2 separate regions of the Homo sapiens genome follow, and region 2 is linked to region 1. Evidence: fine-mapped expression QTL. A gene starts in region 1. The other region holds a variant in brackets. All regions are shown on one strand. Distances are from middle to middle. Region 1 holds the start of GBE1 (1,4-alpha-glucan branching enzyme 1). Region 2 overlaps GBE1 (1,4-alpha-glucan branching enzyme 1).

The links.
Region 2: its variant is fine-mapped to the expression of GBE1 in whole blood (INTERVAL, PIP above 0.99).

What each region holds. Positions count from the first base shown.
Region 1 is chr3:81,757,138-81,766,348 of GRCh38, forward strand. It overlaps GBE1 (1,4-alpha-glucan branching enzyme 1), which reads right to left and starts at 4,508. Exons shown (of 16, transcript NM_000158.4): 1 at 4,238-4,508. The coding sequence starts at 4,380. RefSeq lists silencers at 1,181-1,475, 4,057-4,136, 4,637-4,736 and enhancers at 3,787-3,956, 4,297-4,586, 4,373-4,981.
Region 2 is chr3:81,550,222-81,558,221 of GRCh38, forward strand. All of the region lies in intron 12 of GBE1 (1,4-alpha-glucan branching enzyme 1), which reads right to left. Among named protein-coding and RNA genes, the nearest start is that of GBE1, 210 kb to the right of the region's middle. The variant GA/G (reference allele first, on the strand shown) is at 3,967.

The DNA.
Region 1 (9,211 bases):
ATGGATATCATGTTTCTAATTTATTTTACTGGTATTCTGGTACCTTTACAGAATGGTCCCCAGAGATCCAAGCTGCCCTCTCCCTTTATGGCCCTCTGGTTAGATGGTACCGAGAGGGAGGCTGAAAAGGTCAACAGGGACCAGATAATGCAGAATCTTCTAAGTTATGGGAAGGAGGCTGTACAGAACTCAAGAGAAATGAGGAATGGTTGAAAGGGTTTAAGCAGAGGAGTACCATGATCAGATTTGTTTATTTCAAAATCCATTCTACTTACTCTGTTTGGAATGAAGAGGAGTGGAGAAGTTAGAATGGAGTGAAGATTTGAAAAAAGAACAACAGCTATGAGGTTGTTTCTGTAAACCATACTAGAGATGCTAGCAACCTGAACTAGGATGGCAGCAGTAGGAAGGCAGCATGCTACATACTTAAAAGTTAGGGGCTACAATTGACTAGACTCAAAGGTCTAGGAGGAGACGGGAGTAATTAGAAATCACTCGTTACCTTTTAGGTTTGAGCAGCTGGTAGAGGAAGATTCCAGACACTGCGATTGGGTTGACAGGGACAAACATGTTTGGAATGAAAATCTGTTAAGTTCAGTTTTATACATGTTGAGATTTGTATTTATAAAACATCAAAATGAAGATATAAATAAGTCCAAGATAAGGAGAAAGATCTAGAGTGGAGACAGATGTGGGCAGCCTCAGTAGATAGATGGAATCCATGGGATGGATGAGAATGTCTAGGGAGAAAATATACAATAGAAATACATAAATGATCCCAGGGAAGAACCTTGAAAATCTCTTACATTAAATGGTCAAAAAGAGGCTGAGAAAATGAAAGAAAAGCAAGATTATGGCTTCAAAGAGCCAAGAAATAGTCCAACATGTACAATGCTAGAGATAAAGAAAAGAGGGATCCCTAAATTATCATGAAGTTGTCTGTGAACTGGTTGAGAACAGTTTCAGTAAAGAAAGATTAATCACAGTTGCAGCACTTACTTATGCCATATATGCTCAAGCCCATCACTTAGTTTCTTCATCTGCAAAACAGGAAAAATGCCCACCGTCTGTCTACCTCATGGTTTTGTTATGAGGATTACATTAAATACCGGATCTGAAAGTACTTTATAAACATTAAACAGAGGGTATAAAGTAGTATTATTAAATTGTGTTGTTTTGACAATGTTCACAAATGCCAATTCTCTGTTTCACCCACATGGCAAGCTGATGGGCACTGGCCAATGTAACGTATCAGCAGAATGGACTCACTGCTAGGCAAAAGCTGTAAGAAATAGTGCATAGTTCAACATGCTTCTCTTTGCACTGTGACCACCTCTACAGAAGCATGTTTCAAAACAAATCCTTCATAAGCCTAGATTTTTGAGTGACTGCCATGAGGAGGGCCCTCTGGCTGACTCATGCTGACATGTAATATGGGAACAATTAAATGTTGTTTTAAAGCACTAAGATTTTGGAATTATAACAACTAATTGTAGTGTAACAACAAGTAAATAACTAAATAAAAGGTAGAAAAATCAAGTGGAAAATGCTATTTTGGGAGGTCATCAATGAGACAACATGGAGGTGGTCAGTCATGCTAATAATGTACTAATTTTTATTTTATAGCAGAGTAACTCATTAATCCTCTACACTTGATTCAAAATTCTCACAGGTACAGAAGGTGAAAAGAACAACTAATGAAGGTGATATGGTTTGGTTGTGTCCCCACTCAGATCTCATCTTGAATTCCCACGTGTTGTGGGAGGGACCTGATGGGAGGTAACTGAATCATGGGGGCAGGTCTTTCCCACGCTGTTCTCCTGATAGTAAGTAAGTCTCACGAGACCTGATGGTTTTAAAAAGGGGAGTTTCCCTGCACAAGCTCTCTTCTCTTGTCTGCCACCATGTGAGACATGACTTTCACCTTCTGCCATGATTGCGAGGCATCCTCAGCCACTTGGAACTGTAAGTCCAATAAACCTCTTCCTTTTGTAAATTGCCCAGTCTCAGGTATGTCTTTATCAGCAGCATGAAAACGGACTAATACAGAAGGGGAAAAGGCCAAGGTAAAGAAGGGAAGGAACATCCAAAACATCCTAAGGGAACATCCAAAAAATTTCAAATCAAAAGATATCTGTTGGGGAAGGATGAGACAGTCCATCAAAGAGAAATTTCCTTCTTCATCACCTTAATTATATACTGTTGTTTGTACCTCAAATTTTCTTCACTCCTTAGTAAGCATACTTTGCACCTAAGTGTTTGACTGGTTATGTATTTGTGTTAGGCCAAAGACACACAGTCCAAATGGATTATCAGAAATAAATGGAAAATTGGACAAGGAACTAAGACCAGATTGTATGAAGGAAAAATGTTTTATTCTTCAAGTGTTAACAATAGAAGTTACCACTAACAAATGCCAAATTACTATTTGATATGCCTAAATGGAACATGTATGCTAGCAAATGGCCATTACTCAGAACCAAGGACAAAAGTAAAATCCGGGTCAGAGTGAGGCATGAGGGCCCACTGGACGAGACTTTTCACCAAGCACACTGGATTCTCTTCCCTTCTTTATCTTGGCCTTTGTTCCCTTCATTAGTTTTGGCAAACCATGAAAGAAGATTATAAATGCTTCAATCCCAGTGGAGTTGGAAATAAAGTACATGAAAGAAACACTTAATAAAGAATGTTAATCTGTTTGTGTCATTTAAAAAAAAAAGGAAGGGGGTGTAGATAAAACATTTCCACAACTCTTCTTTAATAAATATCTTAAGTGTCCTTTTACAAAGCACACAGGTAAATTAATGTCATGGTTACAAGGACATCAAAAAAAAAATCTAACCACTACCTTTAATCACTATCTTTTGTTCTAAATTTTTTCTGACTATTTCTAAATCAAATCCAACCTTAAACCTATGACGATTATGCACTAAGTTTCTCTGAAAGCATATACTGTAAATTCTGAAAACAATTTCACAAGGCTGCTCCTCATATGGTTTATATAAGAGCATAATCATCTGATTAAGTGAGGGACAGCTCAAGGTGATTATTTTACAGAGGCCTCATTCACTACTATATACAAGCTCAAGAATGAAACTTCACATCCCTTACAATCCCTAGAGCAGTGTTTTATTTATAGGAGTTCCTCAATAAACACTTGCTGATTTGAATGCATTTAATACCTGAAAATGCTAGGACACAAACAATTTGCTGGGCTTTTTTCAAACTCCAAATCAACCCATTTTCATTACTCTCAACGCTCCTTCATGCCAGTTAACTAGTTGGATGTTTTCCATCACTCGAAAAATTGGCCATGTATATTCTGTTGCCAGGATAGTTTCCATTCTGCAGTGTCTCTCCTAAAAGGGGAGAAACTATTAAATCAAAATGGGGTAACCTCACAAGTATAACTATTACAACTTGTATAATAGCTCTTTTACTTCAAACAACAACGACAACAGAAAAAGACCTGTACCTTTTTAGTGGAACTTATGAATAGAATTATTAGCCCAGTAACTAAAGTTGTATGGTACACAATGGTAGAAGACAAGCTAAAACGACATTGGCCTGTAAAAGTTGCTTTCCTGACCTTTCTCCCTCTTCAAGATGGTTAAAGTCACACACGGACAAATGTTGATGTACATTTAACTTCTCAATGTTGATCCAAGGGGAGAAAAAATTGATCAATGTAGGTGTAATCTTCCCCTAAATGAGGAATATTAGCAAGGAAAAAACAAAAGGATATAGTGTCTGCCTGAAGGAATCCTCTTAGATATAAAATCACAACATTTGCTATGAAATAAACTAGAAAGTTTTAAATGCGTAATTACACGTGCCAGGAGTTATGCCCACGTTACTCCACAGGCCCACGCTAGTGGGTGCCAAAGTCAGAAAACCTGCAGCGGCGGTGAGTCACTCCCCAGCAGCACTCTGGGGAATAAGTGTTGGAGCCACAGCACGTACCCTATGGCGCAAGACCGCTGATTAGAACAGAGGGGAAAGGGGATGAGGAAAGAAGTTTCTTCAGCGCCCGCTCCGGGCACCAGCGCTGTCAAACCTGCCACTACGGAAGCCACAGAACCCGGTTACCCGAGTCACCCCGAGCCCCGCCCACTCAGGTTCCTCCCCGCCTGGGGCGGGGTTGGCGCGCGAGGGCCGAGGGGCGGCCCGTGTCCCGAGACGGCTCCTGGGAGGCGGGCTGCCTGTCTAAGTGGGGGTGGTGGGATTCCGGCGGTACCTGCGCTGGAAGTCCACGGCGTAGGGCTTCAAGTACGGGTCGATCTCCAGGAGTCTGGCCAGTTCGGGCACGTCAGCCAGGGCGGCATTGAGCGCCGCCTCGTAGTCCTCGGGCCGAGCCGCGGGAGTCATCGGAGCCGCCATATTCCGCCGCAGTCCAAGTAGCCGAGGCCCGAGAGGTCGAGTGGGGCCTGAGCGGGCGCTGGAGCTCTAGCTGGGACGCGGCGGCTAGGGCGGAGCCGGAGGGCGCCTAGGCGTGTCGAGGCAAGCCGAGGCGAGCCGCGGCGGTCCGGGGCCCTTTATAGCCGGGACGGAAGGCCTCCTGCCCTTTCTCCCCCCGCCAGCGGGGAGGAGCGGATCCCGGGGTGATGCCGGGACGCACGTCCGGAGCGGGTAGGAGGCACCGAGGCCTCTCCGCCCACTCACGCGGCTGGCACCTGGAGGCCGCAGGGACCTGCCCTTTCCTCCCCTTAACGGTTTTTTCCTGCTGGCGGAGGTCATTCTAGGAGGTGGGTCCCAAGCTGACCTCGCTCAGCCTTGGCCTTCCTCACCCTGACATATTCTTGGCTTTTCTTTACCCACTTAAGCACCCACTGACAGCGACCCCTTCAAATTGGACATAAGGGGTTTTTTTGGAAAGGACCGTATTTCTCAAAGTTCTGAGACTTTTGAGGGGCAGTATTTCAAACATATCATGTAAATTCACAGAGAGGGGAACAGTCAAGTGTAGCTAGAGTACTACTGCTGAAAATGTTAATACCTCTTACAACCAGGACTCTCCTAAGTTTGCCAGGTCACGTGAATTTAAAATTAACCAAGACACAGAATCCTGGAATACCGTTGGAATTCTGCTGTTCTGGTACTCTTTTCTGCATTACCAACAGCTAAGAATTTTAGCCATGGGAAGAACTTTTCTCATTCTCCGTAAGGCCAAAAAGGAAAAGGCATTTGCCTGTGTTTATAATTGTTAACAAGCTTTTCAACGATTAAACTACCTTTGATAACACAAATGATATCATTGAATTGGAACTCCACTCTGCCACTTACAGTGATAAGGCAAGAAACCTCTCTTCCTCTTGGCTTGGGAAGCTCCCACTTGGAATTCCCTTCTTTTATTGCCATTAACTGACTAGCTTCTATTTCAATAATTGCTTTTTAGGAATACAGAGTTGGACTCCAAGAGAGATGGACCCACCAAACCCAGGAGGGTCCAAGCTGCTTTACACCTAGAAACTAGAGAGGATTGAGGATATTTTTCTTGTTAAAACCCAGAACTGGAGGATCCTAGGGGTTATGGAGGAGAAACAGTATTAATCAGCCGTGGGCCTTGAATTTTAAAATATTTCAAAGGAAAGTTTTTATAAGGGGTTTCATAGACTTGAAAGATAAGTGGATATGAAGACAGACCTCAGTGTGAAAAAGTGAAGGACTTGAACGACTTTAAGACGTGCCTTGTTTTCCATAAAGATGACAAAAAACTGCTGCAGACATTTGTAAAATATAAAGCACTAAAAAAGGAAGAAAATTAAAAAAAAATAAAAACCCGAAGCAGGACAACTATTAATAACAGACCCACAGATCTACATCTCCAAGCCTAAACTTTTTTCAGAAACCCAGGCTTGTATCACTGCCTGTCTACTGAGATTTCCATTTAGCTGGCTAGGAGACCTAAACAAACTGTCTGCAAAACGTGACCTAGAATCCGTCTTCTCATCCTTCCTGCTGTCACTCTTATGCAGGCCACTGTTTTCCTTCACTTGGACCAGAATGTAGCTCTCTAACTGACTTCCCCTCTTCTACTCTTTCTCACCTCTACTCCATTCTCTGTACCAGTGTTTCTCACACTTTAATGTGCATATGAATCACCTAGGGATCTTAATTGAGTTCCGATGTGGTGCTTCAGATTGCATTTTTAACAAGCTCAGAAGTGATTCTGATGCTGGTGGTTGGGGACACAGTTTGGTGAGACTCTACACTGAGTAAATCAGACGATGTCATTTAGCAACTTAAATAGCATAGTATTTCACTTAGGGTAAAATAGAAACAGCTTATCATTCTCTAACAAGGCTTGTATAATCTGGACCCTGACTACCTTTCCAGCCACTTTTCTCATCATTTTCCAGTTTTACTATGCTCTAGTCACACTGACTTTCCTGGAACTCAGTGAATTTGTTGTATAATAGCCTCTAAGATTATTTGCTTGCTGTTCTCTCTGTTGGAAATTTTCAGGGAGCTGAGCTCTACTTGCTTAATTTTTTCCAAGCCTTCATTCCAGCCTCAGCAAAAATGTCACCTCATACCTGAGAAACTTCTGATTATAGACTCCTCAGTGTCTTCTGTATAACTTCAATCTCTTCTATGCAACAGTTAACAGAATCTAGGTGTTTGTTTTTCTCCTATTTATTGACCTTTCCCTTTAGAACCTAAGCTCCCCACGAGCACGATCCTAGCGTACATATCTGCCTACCTAGGTGGTTCACCATTGAGCACATATTTATTGAAGTCCCATGTGCCGGCCATTTTCCCACGTACTGTGGATAAATGATAAGACAAGTCCCAGTTGTCATACTCTATTGGGGGTAGGAGGGAGAGGAGACACAATTACCAGTGAAATACATAAAATAATACAAAACAATGTCAGATAGTGGTAAGTGCATTGTCGAGAATTAAAACTGAGCAAATATCTGTGTTAGTTCCGGTCGTCAAGAAAGGCCGTTCAGAACTGACATTTAAGCTGAAGTGTGATGACAAGAAGAAATGAGCCATGAGAGGAAGAGCATTCCAGAATGGCAGAGTTCGTGCAATGGAGGAATTGAATTGGTCTTTTAAAAAAAAAAAAAAATCTAGCATACCCGGTGTGTAATGAGGAGTGGCAGGAATTGTGGTGCAAGAGCTAGGCAGCTGTTCGTTCATATAGGCCCTTTAATGTCCATTTAAGGGATGCTATTGGAGAGTTTTCAGCAGAACACTGATATGATATGGTTTAATTATTAAAATATTCTATGTGGCAAATGAATTATAAGGATACAAGAATGGCAATAGGGGTGCCATTCTTGTGGGAGACAAGGGAGACAATTAGGAGGTGATTAACATTGCCTAGGCATGAAATGATGATGGCTTGGTCTGGGGTAGCAGATAAAATGATGAAATAAAGATTTGGGATGCATGATATAATGAATGCCTAAACTATTATGAAGTCATTTAGTGTCTGTATTAGTTACCTAGGGCTGTAGTGATTAAGTACCACACACTAGGTAATTTAAGCAACAAAAATTTGTCACCTTACCCTAGTTCTAGGGGCTAAAAATCAAGGTGTCCACAGGTTTGGTTCTTTCTGGGGGCTCTGAAGGAGAATTATTCCATGCCTCTCTCCTAGCTTCTGGTGATGGCCAGCAATCTTTGGCATTTCTTGGCTTATAGTTGCATCATTTGGATCTCTGCCTCCATTGTGACATGGCATTTTCCTGTGTCTCTGTCTCTTCACATAGTGTTCTTTTTATTAGGTCACCAGCCTTATTGAATGAAGGACACACCCTATTTCAGTATGACCTCATCTTAACTAATTATATCTGCAATTATTATATTTCCAAATAAGGTCATATTCTGAGGTAATGTTAGGTTAAGACTTCAGTGTATCTTTTTGTGGAGAAATACAATTCAACCCATAACATTTTTGACACACCAAAACAGAGAAAATATTTGAGAAATAGAGTTTATAAGATTTGGTGACTGATTGGATATGAAAGTGAAAAGGGAATTAAAGATTGAACTTCTGAGCCTGGGGGAATTCTGTCTAGCAAAAATAAAGAAGGCCTTGAAAGAGGGAGAACTAAGTTCAAGGTGTCAGCTCCTGGATACCCAAGTCAATATGGCAGCTGGAAATGTAATTCTGGTGCCTAATAGATCATGTAGGAATGAAGATAACAATTAGAGAATGATCCATATGCGTTTACTAGCTAACGGTGGCAAATAGGAGATCCTCAATAAATATTTTGAAACCTTTCTTTCTTGGTATTTGAGTCTCATGTCACATGTTTGCTTTTCAATAGTTTGCATTACAAAGCCAAAGAGTTACTGATAATGTGCTACATCACAGTTGAACCTTAAAAACATAGCAAGTGAAAGAAACCACTCACAAAAGACCACATATTATATGATTCCATGTATATGGAATGTTCAGAATATGCAAATCTACAGAGAAAGAAAGCAGATTTTTAGCTTCCTAGGGCTGGAGGGCAGGGGAAACGAAGAGTGAGTGCAAGTGGATATGCGATTTCTTCTTGGTACACATTTTCTAAAATTAGTTGTGGTTATGGTTTCATGGCTCTGTGGATATACTAAAAACTAATTGTACACTTTAAATGGATGAATTGTATGGTATGTGAATTATGTCTCAAAGCTATTTTTAAAAAGATTCTGAAGGATAAAATAATACTAAATATGCTTTTTAAAAGGCAAATGATTTATACCAACTAAAGATAAACTAGACTATATAAATATACCTTTTAAAATTACATATCCCCCTCGTTGAAAATCATTAGCAATGAAAAAGAAAATCAGAGAGCAGAAAGAAAAAAGAAGTAACTTTTTTTTTTTTTGAGACAGGGTCTAGCACTGTCCCCCGGGCTGGAGTGCAATGGCGTGACCTCGGCTCACTGCAACCTCTGCCTCCTGGGTTCACGCGATTCTCCTGTCTCAGCCTCCCGAGTAGCTGGGATTTCAGGTGCACACCACCACACCCTGCTAATCTTTTGTATTTTTAGTAAAGATGGGGTTTCACTATGTTGGCCAGACTAGTCTCAAATTCCTGACCTAGTGATCTGCTGGCCTTGGCCTCCCAGAGTGCTGGGATTACAGGTGTGAGCCACTGTGACCAGCCAAATAAGTAACTTTTAAGAACAAGGAGTAGTGTTAAAGGGGAATGTGGCTTCTGACAAGAAAAAGGAGAACTTTCAGAAAAAAAGAGAGTGATCGG
Region 2 (8,000 bases), 210 kb before region 1:
TTACTCAATGTTCTCTGAAACTGGACAGTTATTAATCTTCCAGATATCACCTTTTTTTCAGCACTCAATAGTTACGAATGGCTATCACCATACCAATGCTTTCTGACTGAGCTCCTCTCTACCCTGAATGCAAGAGACCTAACAGTTAGGTAGGAATATCATTGCCCTTATTCAGCCTGAAGAAGTTACAGAAGATGGATCTTCATCCCTCTATAACCTTTAAGAGTTCTCTTATAAAATGGAGGGAGAATATATGTCAGAGGTGTTTGAATCAGAGCAACTCCATTTTGAATAGGGACTAGGTAAAATAAGACTGAGACCTACTGGGCTGCATTCCCAGATGACTAGGCATTCTAAGTCACAGAATGAGACAGAGGTTGGCACAAGACACAGGTCATGAAGACCTTGCTGATAAAACAGGATGCAGGAAAGAAGCCAGCTAAAACCCACCAAAACCAACATGGCAATGAGAGTGACCTCTGGTCATCCTCATTGCTATACGCCCACCATCACCATGACAGTCTACAAATGCCATGGCAACGTCAGGAAGTTACTCTATGTGGTCTTAAAAGAGGAGGTATGAATAATCCACCCCTTGTTTAGCAAATAATCAAGAAATAACCATAAAAATGAACAACCAGCAGCCCTTGGGGCTGCTCTGTCTATGGAGTAGCCATTCGTTCATTCCTCTACTTTCTTAATAAACTTGCTTTCACTTTACTCTATGGACTTTCTCTGAATTCTTTCTTGCCTAGATCCAAGAACCCTCTCTTGGGGTCTGTATAGGGACCCTTTTCTGGTAACAGATTCACTGTTTTAAAACAAAATGCTTTGGTCTCCACGTTCTCTCATGTCTTTCTCCTGCACACTCCTCCCTTAAAAGATACAAGCCAAAGAATATATTCTAAGCCCCATGTTAAAGTGGTCATATGTTTAACTATAACAGAAGAATACAACTTTAGAACTACTTAAGTGTATCTGTGCATCAGATAACATGCTTAATTGCTTAATATACATCAGCATCATCCCTGTTCTCATAGAACTCACAATTTAATAGGAGAGATTTTACACAACCATAAAAATATCCATTTCCTTAACATGATGGGGGGTGCTGGACAAGAGGGATCAAAAGAAGGCTTAAAGGATCTGTAAAAGTTAAAGAAAGTAGTAGGAGAGTATGAAAGGAAAACAAATCCTGGGGCCCCAGAATCACTAAGCTAAAGGGAAAAGACAAGCTGGGAACCGCTTCTATTCAAAGTCACCCCTCTGCTCACTGAGGTCAATGCATATCTGATTGCCTCCCTTGGAGAGGCTAAGCAGAAACTCAATGCAACCATTTTCCTCTCATCTACCTATGACCTGGAAGCCCCCTCCCCACTTCCAGTTGTCCCACCTGTCCTTCAAGTTGTCCTGCTGCTTTGGACTGAACCAATGTTCATCTTACTATGACTGATGTCTCATGTCTCCCTAAAATGTATAAAACAAAACTGCTCTGACCAAGCTGGACACATGTCATCAGGACCTCCTGAGGCTGTGTCCGGGCACACATCTTCAACCTTGGCAAAATAAACTTTCTAAATGAACTGAGACCTGTCTTAGATATTCAGGGTTCACAGTGATATGAGACAAATGCTCCTGTTCCATCTAATCATGCCATGGTGACAAATATCCATACCCCCAATTCTAGAAGAGCTGAAAGGGGCCAGGAATGTGGTGCTGAATGTTAGAACTAGGGAAGCATGCTGGGTCCATACCCTCACTCTACCCCTGCTCTCCCAGTCCTCCCCCTGATAAATTATGTGTAACATCTTGAAGTAATAGCTGAATGAGCTATGGGCACTTGGAAAACAATTTTCAACTTGAACTTTGGTTGATCTGGCCAAACCCATCAATCCTTTGTGTTATCTACATGATTACAATTGCTTGGGGTGGTTAAGTTCTCATCAATAAGGCAAAGACAGGATAGTGGGTGAAGTAAATTCTTAGGTCCAATGTTAAGAAGGTTGTCAAAATAGGCTGGGCGTGGTGGCTCACGCCTGTAATCCCTGCACTTTGGGAGGCCAAGGCGGGTAGATTACCTGAGGTCAGGAACTCAAGACCAGCCTGGCCAGCATGGCGAAATCCTGTCTCTACTAAAAATACAAAAATTAGCTGAGCGCGTGGCAGGCACCTGTAATTCCAGCTACTCAGGAGGCTGAGGCAGGAAAATTGCTTGAACCCGGAAGGTGGAGGTTGCAGTGAGCTGAGATTGTGCCACTGCACTCCAGCCTGGGAGACAGAGCAAGGCTCTATCTTATATAAAAAAAAAAAAAAAAAAAAAAAAAAGAAGGCTGTCAAAATAAACAAACAAAAAATAATCTTCATCAGCAATGTCCATAAGTGCAAAATCAGATTTCTATATTCCACATAAATGTGGTAGAATGAATATAAACACACTTATAAACAAGTTTTATTTGAAATGCTAAAGACTTATTAGCATTACTGTATTGAAGGGTAATTATACATCTCTTAATTCCTTTTTTTAAAATTGAGAAAATGGAAGATGATTTTAAATAAATGAAATGTAAAATAATCACAATATTAAAATAAAAGCAAAGTCATTTATTGAGAGCCTCCTATATACACAGGCTTTGTGCTACAATTATTAACAGTTACTTTAAAAAATAATCTTCACAAAAACCCTTCAATATGGGAGGGAACATTATTTCTGTTTTCAGATAATAGATCAGGAAAGTAATGTGACTTTCTAAGGTTATACAGGTATGAAGTATCAAGACTAGTATTCGAACTTAGATGTCTCTGCGTACTTTTCATTGTATCTGGCACTAAGTACATGATTTGAACAACATTAACTAGAAATCTATTATGAATGTACAGGCATTAGGGAAGGTAATGAAAGAGCTATAAAAAGAATGTACTTCCAATTCCACTATCAAATGTACGAATGAAGTGTATTTATTACTGACCTCTGCTTTCTTTGTACCTTGCATATGCTGCTACTATTGGTGTTATGATTCCACGTTGTAGCTGTTTAGCCTCTTCAGAGTTTTTTTTTTAAACTCCTGCAAAAAGGCTTGAGTGTTCTCCTGTGCTTCCACTTGCACTTGGATATATATTTTTTTCTTTACTAATGAAAGTATTTAAATAGCATTATGCTGTGTTTTGTATGTGTGTGGTTATATTGTTTTTGCCTCTTTCTATTAGACTGGGGACAGATATCCTGTATTTTCATCTATTATTTCTACTACAGCAAGCATTCAGTATACACTCAAAGATTTATTAAATAAATGTTGAAAGAAAAAAAATAAAGTCAATGATGTCTGCTTCCATTAGTAGACTATGTATTCCTCATGGAAAATGTCTTTTTTTTTTTTTTTGAATACCCAGTTGAAGTATAGAGACAGATAAAAAAGTGTCTAAAAATGTTTCTTTACAGATGCAAAATGGGTTTCTATGAGAGCCATAAGAAAAAAAAAAAAACAGACAGAAAGTACAATGGGGTAGAAAGGGGGTGGATAAAGAGGAACATATCTATACCATCAGGGAGAGAAATATTTAAATCAGAAGAGAACAGATAAAGCACTTCAGTTGTCTATTTATCAGAGGTTAGGTTTCCTTTTCTGAATGCCAGACTAATAGGAGATGCAATTTCAAATGTTCATGTTGCTATTCAAACTTTGACCTATATGCCATTTTTTGGCACATTTTTAAATTTAAAATAAATAATAAAAATATAAGACGAGGATAAGACAATGAACAAAGCAAATGAGACTAAATCGAGAATGAGTGTTATACTTTTGCACACAATGTTGTAAGAACCAGATATTATTTTCTTAATACAAATTTTCATAGCAACAGTAATGGGCTTTCACCAGTCATTTTGAGGCCATTTTGATGTTGCATGGAACAGGAGACTCAAAATACTCTATTGGGAGAAAATTAGCCACACAAAGGAAATGGTGGGGG[GA/G]AAAAAATGTTATTTTATAAAATTCAAACTGAATTCAGATTTTTTGCAAGTAAGTTAAAAATAACTCAGAAAATAATTTGCTAATGGAGAACCTTGTAAAAATGTATAAATGTTTTGCATGTGAATAAGGCACCAACTGAAAGATTCCACACCATTTTAAGCAGTAGAAAATAAGGCAGAAAAATGGGATATGAAAGCAAGGAATAAATTAGCCAACTATGAAATTGATTCTACACATGTGGCTTTGTGGCTATTGCAACTTTAGGTTTAGACTCAAAAGTTTAGTAGTGAAGACAGACTGTGCTACTTTGTTTGCCTATGATTAGGATATGCTACCGCTAAGTCAGAGTGAGTTCCTGTGGTCACAGCAAACACACATAGTGACAGAGGTTAACAAACTTCCCTAGTCAATTACTCTTTAAGAGCTAAGCACAGACATTTAAAAAGAAAGCACATAGCCACAGGGGAAAAAAATAAAAAAGATTAGTAAGAACATGTTTCCTTAAATACTCAGAATTTGATAACTGACATCAGTTTAATTGAATACTGGTATCATTCCAGGCTGGTGGAGTGTTTTTGTAAGAATCCAAGGCTTGTTCAAGGCACAGCCGGCTGCTACTTTTCTAGGTTTCCATCTCCCACAGCCTTTCTTCTGTATCAGAGCTCTAACTCCCCAAGTAGAGAGACGTAACTACCTGCTTATAACTTAATCAAAGAGCCTGTATTGGTTTGCCTTTGGATGATGCTTCTATTGCTCCAGGTTCCTGCCAACAGCTAGTTAGCCTTGTCTGCTTCCCTGCTATCAGCTCTTGCTTCCTCTCAGGCCACTGGTGCCAAAGAAAGGAGAAAAAAGTTCCATAGCAGCATGACAGCTGGTGGGAAACACTGTGAACTTCTTCCCACAATAAGAAGAAAAGGTTCTCAGTGTTTGTACTTGCTTGCTTCAGCTCTCTCGCTTTGCTCTGGGTAATGCTGATTTTGATTTTTGAAAAATGTGACTATAAAGTTATGAATTGGGCTATCAAATGGCTTTGAAGGCAATAAAAGGGAGAATTCAAACATATATAGGTTGAACATACATAAACAAACAATCTAGTATCTTTAAGATAATGGCGCTTAAACACAAATCTTTTGTCACAACCTACAAACTACCACCCTCCATATAGGTAAACCATAAACTCTTCCATATGGCTAACTCATTCTTTGTACATCTACAGGAGACAAAGTTCTAAATGACAGAAATAGTATAGCAAAGGAAAGAACACAGACGTGAAGCAATATAGTTAGTAACTTAATGGGTGCTGCATTTAATTTTTGTCATATCTAACAGTTTCATTACTTAAATTATGCCATCTGGAGGTGCTCATCTCTACTATTCACACCTGGCTGAGTAAAGTTTCTTTGCTATCTTTTGTACTTCATCTCCCAATATGCAGACCCTGCTTCAAAGAGCCAGATGACATGTAATAATCTGATCAGGACCCAGGTTTCCTGCTTCGAAGCCTTCTGTCCAGTTAGTTCTTTGACTTGCAAAGCCTGATTTTGCCTACAGAAATTCTGTCCATTCTTTATTAACCAAGTTAAATATCCCCTCCTCTGACTGAGAAGTATCTTTCCTTCAGTCAGAAAAGCATAATTTTTTTAGCTGGATAAACTGCTTTCTAGAGAATAGACATTTCCTAACGTCCCTTTATGGCTCCTTGTCTTCTTCAACGACACACAAACAGGGTTGTTATGTGAAAATTATTTCAAAGGAGCTAAGTCCAATATAAATAGTCTCTTTTTGCTCCTCTTCTTCCTTCTGGTTTAGAGCTTTGATCTGGACTATGTAGGAAGGACTTTTCAGTTGTGTGCCTTACTTTGTACAGTGAGATGTTCTGTACATGTAGATATACAGTAAAGTCTATTTAACGTAATTGTACCTAAACTTGTAAATTTCCAAGTAAATTTCCAAGCTTCCAGTAAGAAACCTGGGTAGTGCAGAAGGAGACTTAAAATAAAATATGCTATTATCACAGATCAAATATCTTACATATTTAATGTTTACTTAATGTCAAATAAACATAATATATTCAACTTTAAACAATATAAACAAAGCTATTCATAGATAAATGAAATTCCTCACCTAGAGAGTAAAAAAAAAATCCAAGAGAATTTAATTACCCTAAAAAGATTAAAATAAGAATCCAGAATTATGGCACAACAGTTATTGGAGTCCCTCATAAACTGGCACATGAATGTATAAAAAGGAAACTTTATTTCTTGAAACTTTACAAAGAATCATTAAATGTGTCAGGTATTTGGGGGTAACGAGAAACTTTTAATACTCCAAGTGACAGATGTCAAGACTCATGAATATCTAAATATTCATAACTCGGGAGACATTCTAGACTACTATCCAGGAATATATACATACTTACTTTAATGTTCTTCCTGAGACCCATTAAAGAAATACTTTTTAGGAATGGTGGGAGCACAGGGTATAAACATCAAGAAGGTAAACCCTGTGAAATGATGTATTTAATTACAAATTATATTGCAGTTTTACGCTTTCTAATAATTCTCTGAATATAAATTAGTCCAGTCTCCAGTTAAATAAAGAATTTCTCCTATAGAATTTTTTAAAAGGCACAATGATGTGTCATACAGTGGGTGAAGCATGGAATATGGATACAAAGGACATAAATTTTAGGACAACTTAAAATTTGTAATATGTCACTTACAATGTGTAACCTCCTGCTGTGTAACTTTTTGTTTATCGAACATTTATTAAATAAAAAGCATCAACATAAACTCTTAACATAATTAAATATTTTCTTACAAATGCCCAGTAAAATAGGTACCATTATAATCCCCTTTCTTAAACGATGAAGTTGAGGCACAGAAAAATTGAGTAACAAGTCAAAAATGATACAGCCAGGAAGCAAAGCAGCCAGGATCAGAATGTAGACAGACTGGCTCCAAAGCTGAACTTTTAACCATTAATTTTTGCTGTCCCAAAATAAAAATTATAAAAAAGATACCGACCTTGCACGTTGTTTGTAAAAAGTGACATTATGCATGCAAAAATGCTGCATAAACTGCAAAAGCCTAAACAAATGCAACAGACATATAAAATTATGTGGAAGTGTATATGGGGAAAAGGTCACGAAGAATAAGGATACTGTGACTTAGCTATGGCTGGATGTTAAAAATAAACAAATAAAAGGAACAACTAAAATGACTCCCAGATTTCAATGGTTAATTACCAGAATAATGAGGATAAAGAAGAAAGAAGGAAGAGGAAGAGGGAAGGAGGAAGGAAAAGAAGAAGAAAGAAAGGAGAAGGGAGAAGGACAAAAAGAAAGAAGAAGAAAGGGTATCAAGATTTATAGGGAGGATGACTTCAGTTTTGGATTTAGTGACTTAAAGGAGCCAGCAAGATAACCAGGTAGAGATCTCAGGCAGCTTCAAAATTTATGTTTGTAATTCAGAATAAAAGGTTGGATTTTGAGATAATGATATAGGAGTTATTTACATTAAAGAAATGGTCAAAGCATAAAAGTAGATGAGTTTTCTGAGAGAGGTAGGGAAGCAATAAAAGAGAACCAGTAGAACACCTGAGAAAGATGTATTAATACATTATAGAAGAAACTGAGGAGAAGGAGTCTGTGAAGCAGACAGGAGAATCATAACATAACAAAGAAGAAAGAGAAGGAGAACCTGAGGAGTCAAACTGAACCAAGAGGTCAAAGGAGTTCAGGTAGTGGGTGCAGAGGTCTGCAAGTCAATGATGATCTTGGAAACCAAAGTTCCTGAATTGTGAGACGGCATCAGGGAAAGTACAAGAGTTTGAGAGGTGGGTAGCGTATGAGGAAGCAGGATCAGCACACGTAACTATATAATGAAGTTTGGCAAATAAGAGAAAAAATGATAAAATAGTAATGAGCTTTACAGGTTGGTAACCTATTTCTCAATTTGTAAAGTATGTATTTTAAGTCAATGTGTGTGTGTGTGTTTATAGTTTCTCAGGTTCATTTCCTAGTTCTTTTAT